Regions from separate parts of the Homo sapiens genome. Here region 1 is linked to region 2. The links come from fine-mapping of genetic effects on gene expression. A gene starts in region 2. The other region holds a variant in brackets. All regions are shown on one strand. Distances are from middle to middle. Region 1 has its middle 12 kb from the start of RPS19BP1. Region 2 holds the start of MIEF1 (mitochondrial elongation factor 1).

Region 1 (4,512 bases), 43 kb after region 2:
TTCTCTAGGCTGGTCTCAAACTCCTGGCTTCAAGCAATCCTCCCACCTTGGCCTCCTAAACTGCTGAGACTGCAGGTGTGAGCCACCCAATACATCACTTTGAGAGGCCGAGGTGGGAGGATTGCTTGAACTTGGGAGTTCGAGGTTGCAGTGAGCCATGATCACGCCACTGCACTCCAGCCTGGGCAACAGAGAAAGACTCTATCTTAAAAAAAAAAAACAATCCCGCCAGGCTCACACAGGCAGTGGCTCACGCCTGTAATCCCGGCACTTTGGGAAGCTGAGGTGGGCAGATCACGAGGTCAGGAGTTCAAGACCAGCCCGGCCAACATGGTGAAACCGCATCTCTATTAAAAACACAAAAATTAGCCAGGCATGGTGGCATGCGTCTGTAATCCCAGCTACTCAGGGGGCTGAGGCACGAGAATCGCTTGAACCCAGGAGGCAGAGCCTGCAGTGAGCCAAGATCGTGCCATTGAACTCCAACTTGGGTGATAGGGCGAGACTCCATCTAAAAACAAAAACCAAAAAACACAAAAAAACAAAAAACCCCAAAACAAAAGTTAAGTCAGATAAAGTGCCTGCCAAGAGAAGACCTCAAGAAACGCTCACCAGGATTATGATCATACGGCCATCTGCAACCAATTCCCCGGCTGCGTGCGCGAGCCCTGTGTGCTTTCCAGTACCACGTGGGGGCGTTCTCCTCTGTCCCTTACTTTCTCTACCCCCTGCCTCCCCGACCCAAAGCTCAAGTCTGAAGGGGGATTTCTTGCAGGGAAGCAGTGGTATACAGAGTTCTGCAGGAAAATGAGAGCTTCTAGTCTCTCCTTCTCCCTTCTGTGAAACAGGAGAGGAAATCCTCCCTCCCTCTTGGGAATTACTGAGTGTTTCTCAGACTCCAGCTGAGTCTCCAGTCCCTAGTTCCTCAGAGACCCAGATGAATTAAAGTTGTAAGTAAATTAGGAATCGTTCATTATTTGATGGCTGGGATCCTTTGGCAGGTGGAGTGGTGGAGGAGGGGAGGTGGGGCCATCTTCCTGCTGGGCTCAAAGATTCTCTCCGGAGAGGTGTGTTTGGCCCAGGCCAGCCCAGGGGCCTAAGAGAGAGAGCCGGCCCCCACTCCTCCTGCTCAGAAAGATCCTTCCCACAGTCTCAGATACCACTGTCTTCCTGGACAATCTTGCAAGAGGCCTTTTCTCTCTCAGCCTTAGTTTTCTCATCTGCAAAATGGTACCAAGGGTGGGGGGGAAGATTCTATTCAATTGTCTTTAAGGTTGATTTAGGCAGTAAGTTTCTTTTTCTTTTCTTTCCTTTTTTTTTTTTTGAGATGGAGTTTCGCTCTTGTTGCCCAGGCTAGAGTGCAATGGCGCAATCTCGGCTCATTGCAACCTCCGCCTCCCAGGTTTAAGGGATTCTCCTGCCTCAGCCTCCTGAGTAGCTGAGATTACAGGAATGAGCCACCACCTCAGCTAATTTTGTATGTTTAGTAGAGACGGGGTTGGTCAGACTGGTCTTGAACTCCCGACCTCCGGTGATCCACCCGCCTTGGCCTCCCAAAGTGCTGGGATTATAGGCATGAGCCACCGTGCTCGGCCTTCTTTTCTTTTCTTTTCTTTTTTTCTTTTTTTTTTTTTCTTGAGACAGAGTCTCGCTCTGTTGTCCAGGCTGGAGTGCAATGATGTGATCTCGGCTCACTGCAACCTCTGCCTCCTGGGTTCAAGCGATTCTCCAGCCTCAGCCACCCAAGTAGCTGGGACTACAGACGCACACCACCATGCCCAGATTTTTTTTTTTTTTTTTTTTTTTTTTTTTTGAGATGGAGTCTCACTCGCCCAGGCTGGAGTGCAGTGGCGCGATCTCAGCTCACTGCAACCTCCGCCTCCCAGGTTCAAGCAATTCTCCTGCCTCAGCCTTCTGAGTAGCTGGGATTACAGGTGCGCACCACCACGCCCAGCTAATTTTTGTATTGTTAGTAGAGATGGGGTTTCACCATATTGGTCAGGCTGATCTCAAACTCCTGACCTCGTGATCCACCCGCCTCTGCCTCCCAAAGTTTTGGGATTACAG[A/G]CGTGAGCCACCGCGTCCGGCCTGCCCAGCTAATTTTTATATTTTTAGTACAGATAAGGTTTTGCCATGTTGGCCAGGCTGGTCTTGAACTCCTGACCTCAGATGATCTCCCCACCATAGCCTCTCAAAGTGTTGAGATTACAGGCGTGAGCTATTGTGCCCACGTCCTTCCAGGCTCAAGTGATCTTCCCACCTCAGCCTCCTGAGTAGCTGGGACCACAGGCGTTTGCCACTATGCTCAGCTATAGGCAATACGTTTATATCCATAAACTTGGACATCTCTTCTTCTGTAATACCTGCGATACTGTTTTTGTTCGAGGAACCAATTTGTACCCCCACCCTAACCCTAGGATATTCAGCCAAGTATTTTTCTCATATAGAAGGACAGATAACTAAGTGAATCGGTATGGCAGGCTCTGTGCTAGCTGCTGGGGGTGCTGCAATGAGTTATGGTATTTCCTGCCTTCCAGAAGCTCCCTCTCCAGTGGGGGACACTGGGGAGCTGGGCCTCGAAGGAGAAAGGAGGGCACTCCAGGTTGGGGGGAGCAGCATGTGCAGAGGCCTGGAGGCATGAGTCAGTGAGGGATAGGGAAAGTGTAACTGACCTCTGAGGAGCAGGTGTGTGCCAGCCAACGAGGCCCCTTTGTCTGACCAGGGGAAGGGAAGGTTAGTGCTCCTCTCCCTCCCCAGAGGAAAACAAAATTTTAGAGACTGTCAGAAATGTGATGGAGCTGTCAGGAGAACATGAAACAGCCACGTACCCTGGGAAACGGAAGTCACAGCTCTGTTTGTTCTGTGACAGTGTGAAAACTCACAACCTTTTCATCGAGATGGGTAACGAAAACATGAGAAAACTGGAAGTGCTTTGGTTTGGCTCAGCTGAGGACATTACTCCAAGCCCGCCCAGGCTCTCCCCTCCGGCCTGGATTCGTTTCTGTGTCAACACTCGCCCAGCCTTGCACAGCCGGGCACACGGGCGTCTCCCTCTGCAGTGGTTCCCCGACTTGTCGGCCATCTTCGCTGGTGGTGTTTTCCTTGGTCACTGTGGTTATTTGAAAGCGATGTCAAAGCAAACACTGCTCTCTCTCCCTGAAAACCCCTGGCAGGAGCTGCCTTTCTCACCGTCCCTGTCCTTCGTCTCCTCCTGTCCCTTCCTTCCTGCCGCAGCCTCTTCCCTCAATCCTACTGAACTCCTTCCTGGGAGAGGTTAGGGCGGGAATCGCCACCTTCCAGGGCACGGAGAGGCGAAGCGGAATTCAGCACCACGGACAGCAGCCCGGCGCGCAGTTGGCGTGCGGTTGGCTCAGGAAGTTATTCTGTAGGTTTTGTAGGTTTATGACCCGCTGTTGGGTAGCAAAAGGCCTTGAACGCTGACTCAGGAGGTCGGGGTGCAGGGAGCTGGATCGGGGGTGCTGATGATGTCGGAGGAGCTCCTTGTGGATCTGGAGATAATTTTCCTATAAAATTCCCTCTCTCCTTTGTTTCCAAGACCCTTGACCACACTTGCACCTTCCCCTACCACCTCTCCCTCCACAGTTAATAATAACATACATGTGTCTGTGTGTACTCGACAGGGAATGCGAACGTATTTGCGTGAATCTGTACCTTGGTGTAATAGTGTATTTAATACAAGTAGTATCTGGGTGTACGTGTGAGGATGTTTGTGGGATTTGTGGGTCTGTGTGAACGTGTCAGTCTCTGTGTCTGTGTGTGTGTGCACATGTGGGGCTGCGAGTGTCTCCGTGGATTTCTTCTCCTTTAGGGGAGGGCAGCTCTGTGCCTGGGAAGTGAACGCTGTGGGTTAAGCATCGAAGACCACCCTCCCCACCAGTTTTCTCTGGAGGGTCAGGATGCAGGGGGATCCCTAGACTCAGGGATCGAGAGATTATTTGCCAATGGTATTCACTCCCTCCTTTGTTTCCAAGACCCTTGACCACCCCTCCACCTACCCCAACAAGTTTGAGTGCATGCATGTGCACACATACACACACATACACACTTCCACTTTTTCTGTGGTCTGCAAGCCTTGGCTCTTGTTTTTTCTCCCTTCACACCCCACTCTCCCCTCTCCAGCCCCTTGTCATGGGTCCTCAGCCCCACTACCCCAGGCCTTCATTCCCTTCTTCTGGGGGAGTGTCTGGCCTGGCAGCCACAGGAGACTGGCGTGGTTCATCTTATACTTGCCTGCTGTGTGACCTTGGGCAATCATCGCCCCCTTCCACTTGATTTCCTGGCTTCAGAAAGGGGCTCTTTGGACCATGTTATTTCTAAGCTCAGAGCCCAACCCCATGGTCAGCTCCTAGCACTGACTCCCTAGTGGGAAGAACTGTGGGCCAGGTTAGGATGTGTGCCAATGGCTGCAGGAGAGCACAGGCAGCACCCTGTGGGCATGGAGAGGGAGAGGAGGCAGGGGCTCTGAGTGTGTGTAGAGGGGAGGGGAGGCGA
Region 2 (4,000 bases):
TCACTTGAACCCGGGAGGCAGAGGCTGCAGTGAGCCAAGATCGCGCCACTGCACTCCAGCCTAAAGACAGAGCGAGACTCCATCTCAAAACAAACAAACAAACAAACAAACAAACACCCTGCAATATCAATCCAAGAGATCCTGGAATGCCTCTTGCCCTGTGAAACCTGGCAGAGCCCTGAGGTTTGGGTCAGTGCCCCCTGCCGTGGGTCTCTGGCCTACAAAGGCACCATGGGTACGTACATGTAAGTGCTAGATACCACCTCACTGCCCACACTCCATTGCCACGGAAGCATCGGGGGCAGGGAGAGGCCTTGTCAGTCTAAGTAAAGATAAGACCCTGAAGAGCAAGTGGATCTAGAGGGGCTGATCCGAAGGGGAGACCCCTCCAAATGACCTCCCTCTGTCCCTCCCTCCGAAAAATAACATTCCATAGAACAAGAAAGTCAGGAGAGATATGAAGAGGTCATCTGGTATGCCGATGGAAATGCCACCAATTATATTTATTTGGGTCACAAAATTCTTTAAAAAGCAAATTAGGGCAGCCTGAAAGAGTGGAAAGAACACACATTTCAGAGTAAGACAGACTTGGCTTCCACTGAAAGCTTCTTTCCTTCTTAGCTCAGTGTCTTAGAAACTACTATGCCTCTCTCCATCTTGGTTTTCTTTTCTTTTCTTTTTCTTTTTTTTGAGACCGAGTCTTGTTCTGTCGCCCAGGCTGGAGTACAGTAGCGTGATCTTGGCTCACTGCAACCTCTGCCTCCCAGGCTCAAGCAATTCTCCTGCCTCAGCCTCCCAAGTAACTGGGATTACAGGTACAATGCCACCACTCCCGGCTAATTTTTGTATTTTTAGTAGAGATGGGGTTTCACCATGTTGGTCAGGCTGGTCTCGAACTCCTGACCTCAAGTAGATCCGCCCACCTCAGCCTCCCAAAGTGCTGGGATTACAGACGTGAGCCACCGTGCCCAGCCCTGCAACAGACTCTTGATTGGTCTCCCTGCCTCAGCCCTGGTTCCATTCCGTTATTCTCAAGCCAGACAGATCCCATTGAAAGGGAAGTCAGATCCCAGCACTTCTTGGCTCTGAACCCTGCTGTGGTTCCTTTGCACCCGCCATCTCCCTCCCAGTTCTGGTAAGGGCCTCCCCTCTGGCCTCTTTCCCAGCTCCTGCTCACTCAGCTGCGAAAGCACTGGCTTTCTCCCTGTGGCTCCTAGACCACGCTGAGCTTAAAGGCTTACCTGGGGGGAGGCCTGAAATGCTCTTCCCTGCAATGTTCTTCTCCTGGTTCTCGTCCTTTTATCAGATAGCCTGACTATTCTGCAATTGCCCACCCCTCTACTGGTAGATATTACCTTTTAATCCTCACCACAGCCCCAAGGCTGGGTGAGGTTAGGAAACTTGGCAGAGGGCAGCTGTCCCTAAGTGGTGGAACTGGAACTAGGAGCCAGCGGTGGCCCCGGTGGCCCCGGACTCCAAAGCCCCAGGCCCTGGGCTTGGCAGAGCCAGGCATGGAGGGAGGCAGTTGGGGGAGGGAGCTTCCATAGAGACACGGCCTCCGTCCTCAAATCTAGTGAGAGACAGAGAAGCAAATGGATAAATTACAGTGCCTGGCATATGGTAGGCGCCAAGAAATACGTTTTGTTGTTGAACAGATTATGAGGCGTAAGATGTGCAGACATTTCCGTGGGGCCCAAAGAAGGCACGTGAGTGTGTTAGAGGGAGGCGAGGAAGGGGCTGGGAGAGATTTCCCAGTGAAGGGGGGCATTTGAGGTAGACTTTGAAGGAAGGGTAGGAGTTTGCCAGAAGCCATGGGGCCTGGGGAGTAGGAACAGCATGGAGGGATGAAAAGAAGGCGATCTGAGAAAATGGGTTTTGAGGAGCTCTGAATATTAGTGTTAGAATTCCCTCAGGTACCCCAGGGCCCCAGCCAGAGATCAGCATATACAGTACAGGAGGCTGGCCAGGTACCCCGACAGGCTAAGGGGTTGCCAGCAGGTGAGGGGCCTACCCGGTGCGGCAGCCTTGTTGGACAGCGAGGCTACCTCCTGCCCTCTGAACTTCTGCCAGCATCGGGACCACCCCGGTACCCACAGCCGGACCCGGACACCGGAGTCCTCTGGGGGCGGGGCGCGAGTGGCCTCTGCAGGCCAGTCCCTTGGTGAGGTCACACACGGAGGCGGGGCTCAGGATTGGGGGGCGGAATCATGCGCAGGGGGCGGGGCCCGAGAGAGAGCTTGGAGAAGACCGGAAGTCCCTCCGCCTCCACTCGCCCTCGTGCTCCCTTCAGCCCCTTCGCAGCTCCGTGCGCAAGGTCGTGTCCCGGAAGTGAAGGGGCCATGTTGATGGGTGACCCGGGGAGAGGTACCCGGCCAGAGGCGAGTCCTGCGGAGTGGTAGCGCGCACGGCCTGCGGGTGAGTGAGAGAAGGAATGAGGGCCGCCGGCGGCTGGGCGGCGGGGAGGTTGCAGCGCCTCCTCTCAGGCTGCTGCCGGCGCCTCGCATGCGGCCCGGAGTCAGGATACCAGCATGCAGCCGGGGGTCTCGCCCCATCCCGCCCTGGACTTTCCCCTGGGAGACCCCTCGGCTGCCCCGCCCCGCCCCAACCTCGGAGACCTCCAGTGCCCCGAAGCAGGCCTGCCCTGGCCTCTGGGCCTCCGCACCCCGGCCCGGCCCCCACGGTTGGTGAAGTGCAGACTGGCTGGGGCTCAGCCGCCCAGTCGCCCAGCGACCTTGTAGTTACAGCCCTCGCCGTGACAGTCGCCTTTTACAGCATCAAACACTTCTGTTGATTTTCTGCATCGGGAGGTCCTTAGGGCCGAGGGATCTCTTAAACAGTTGAGGAAAAATGGGCAGGGATGGTGGCTTGCTCAAGCTTGCGCAGGAAGTTAGCAAGGCCGGAGGCTAAGGGCTCGCGGACTTTGGGCCCAAAGTCCAATCTTTTTTTCCAGCCAAATACTTCCCCCACTTGGTGTCATTTCTTTATTTCTGAAACGGAGGTGATCATTTCTTCCACATAGGGACGTTGTGAAATTCTCTCCGTTACGCATAATTTTGAGCCCCTTGTATGTGCCAAGCGCTGTGCTGGGAAAGTTCGTGGAGCACCCAGAAGTGCTGTACACACGGTCCGGCTCCAGCAAAGGGTAACTCATTCCAGAGGCAGGCAGAGTTGGGGTCAGGAGTGCAGCCCTCCCCTTGACAGCTGTGGGCCCGCGGGCAAGTTACTTCCCTCTGGGAGATTGTTTCCTCCACTTAAAATGGGGTAATGTTGACCCCTAGGGTAGCTGACAGAATGAGTTGTTATGTGAGACATGCTTCGAACATTGCACGTTGTATATAGTGCAATATAATGCAATAAGCATTTACTGTTACTAAGAACCCTGACCACCTTCTAGATTCTTAATTTAAATGTGGTCATGGGCAACAAAGCACTTTACAGATATGCTTGTGTAAGGGTTTATTGTTACTGAAGGAAGGCAGTGGCAGTTTATACTTAAATGTAATTATTTATTGAGCATTTACAAACCTGGCTAGGTGCTACTAATAATATCTGCTGTTGATAGAGTGCTTCGTGTGTGCCAAGTGCTGTTCTAAACATATTCACATACATTAAACTCATTTAGTGCTTATGCCAACCGTATGGGCAAAATATGATTTTTATCCTCACTTCACAGATGAGGAACTGAGACAGTCACAGAGAGGTTAGGAGACTTGCCCACGGTCATGCAGCTCGTAAGTGCTGGTGCCAGGATTCAAGTATGGCTGAGTGCTTGTCTTCAACCCTCCTAGATCACCCCCTGTGGTGAAGTTCTATTACCGTTCATTACGTGCACAGTTCTCAAAATAATCCTATGTGGTAGGTACTATTGCCATAATATCCTAATCTCCATTTTATAAGTGAGGAAGCTGGTGCTCAGCGGGGGTTCAGTCCTTTGCCCAAAGTCATATGGCAAGTAAGTGGCAGGGCCAGGATTTGAGCCCTGGTGAACCACAACCTGTAT

The links. PIP is the estimated chance that this variant, and not a neighbour inherited with it, causes the effect. A credible set is the group of variants that fine-mapping cannot tell apart.
Region 1: its variant is the best candidate, but not a certain one, in a credible set for the expression of MIEF1 in whole blood (INTERVAL, PIP 0.86).

What each region holds. Positions count from the first base shown.
Region 1 is chr22:39,542,637-39,547,148 of GRCh38, forward strand. No RefSeq gene overlaps it. Among named protein-coding and RNA genes, the nearest start is that of RPS19BP1, 12 kb to the left of the region's middle. The variant A/G (reference allele first, on the strand shown) is at 2,068.
Region 2 is chr22:39,500,023-39,504,022 of GRCh38, forward strand. It overlaps MIEF1 (mitochondrial elongation factor 1), which reads left to right and starts at 2,268. Exons shown (of 6, transcript NM_019008.6): 1 at 2,268-2,415. LOC105373035 (a long non-coding RNA gene) reads right to left here and starts at 2,138. Exons shown (of 3, transcript XR_938263.4): 1 at 2,012-2,138; 2 at 1,242-1,570; 3 at 470-546. RefSeq lists enhancers at 2,048-2,549, 2,407-2,456, 2,550-3,049 and a silencer at 2,557-2,666.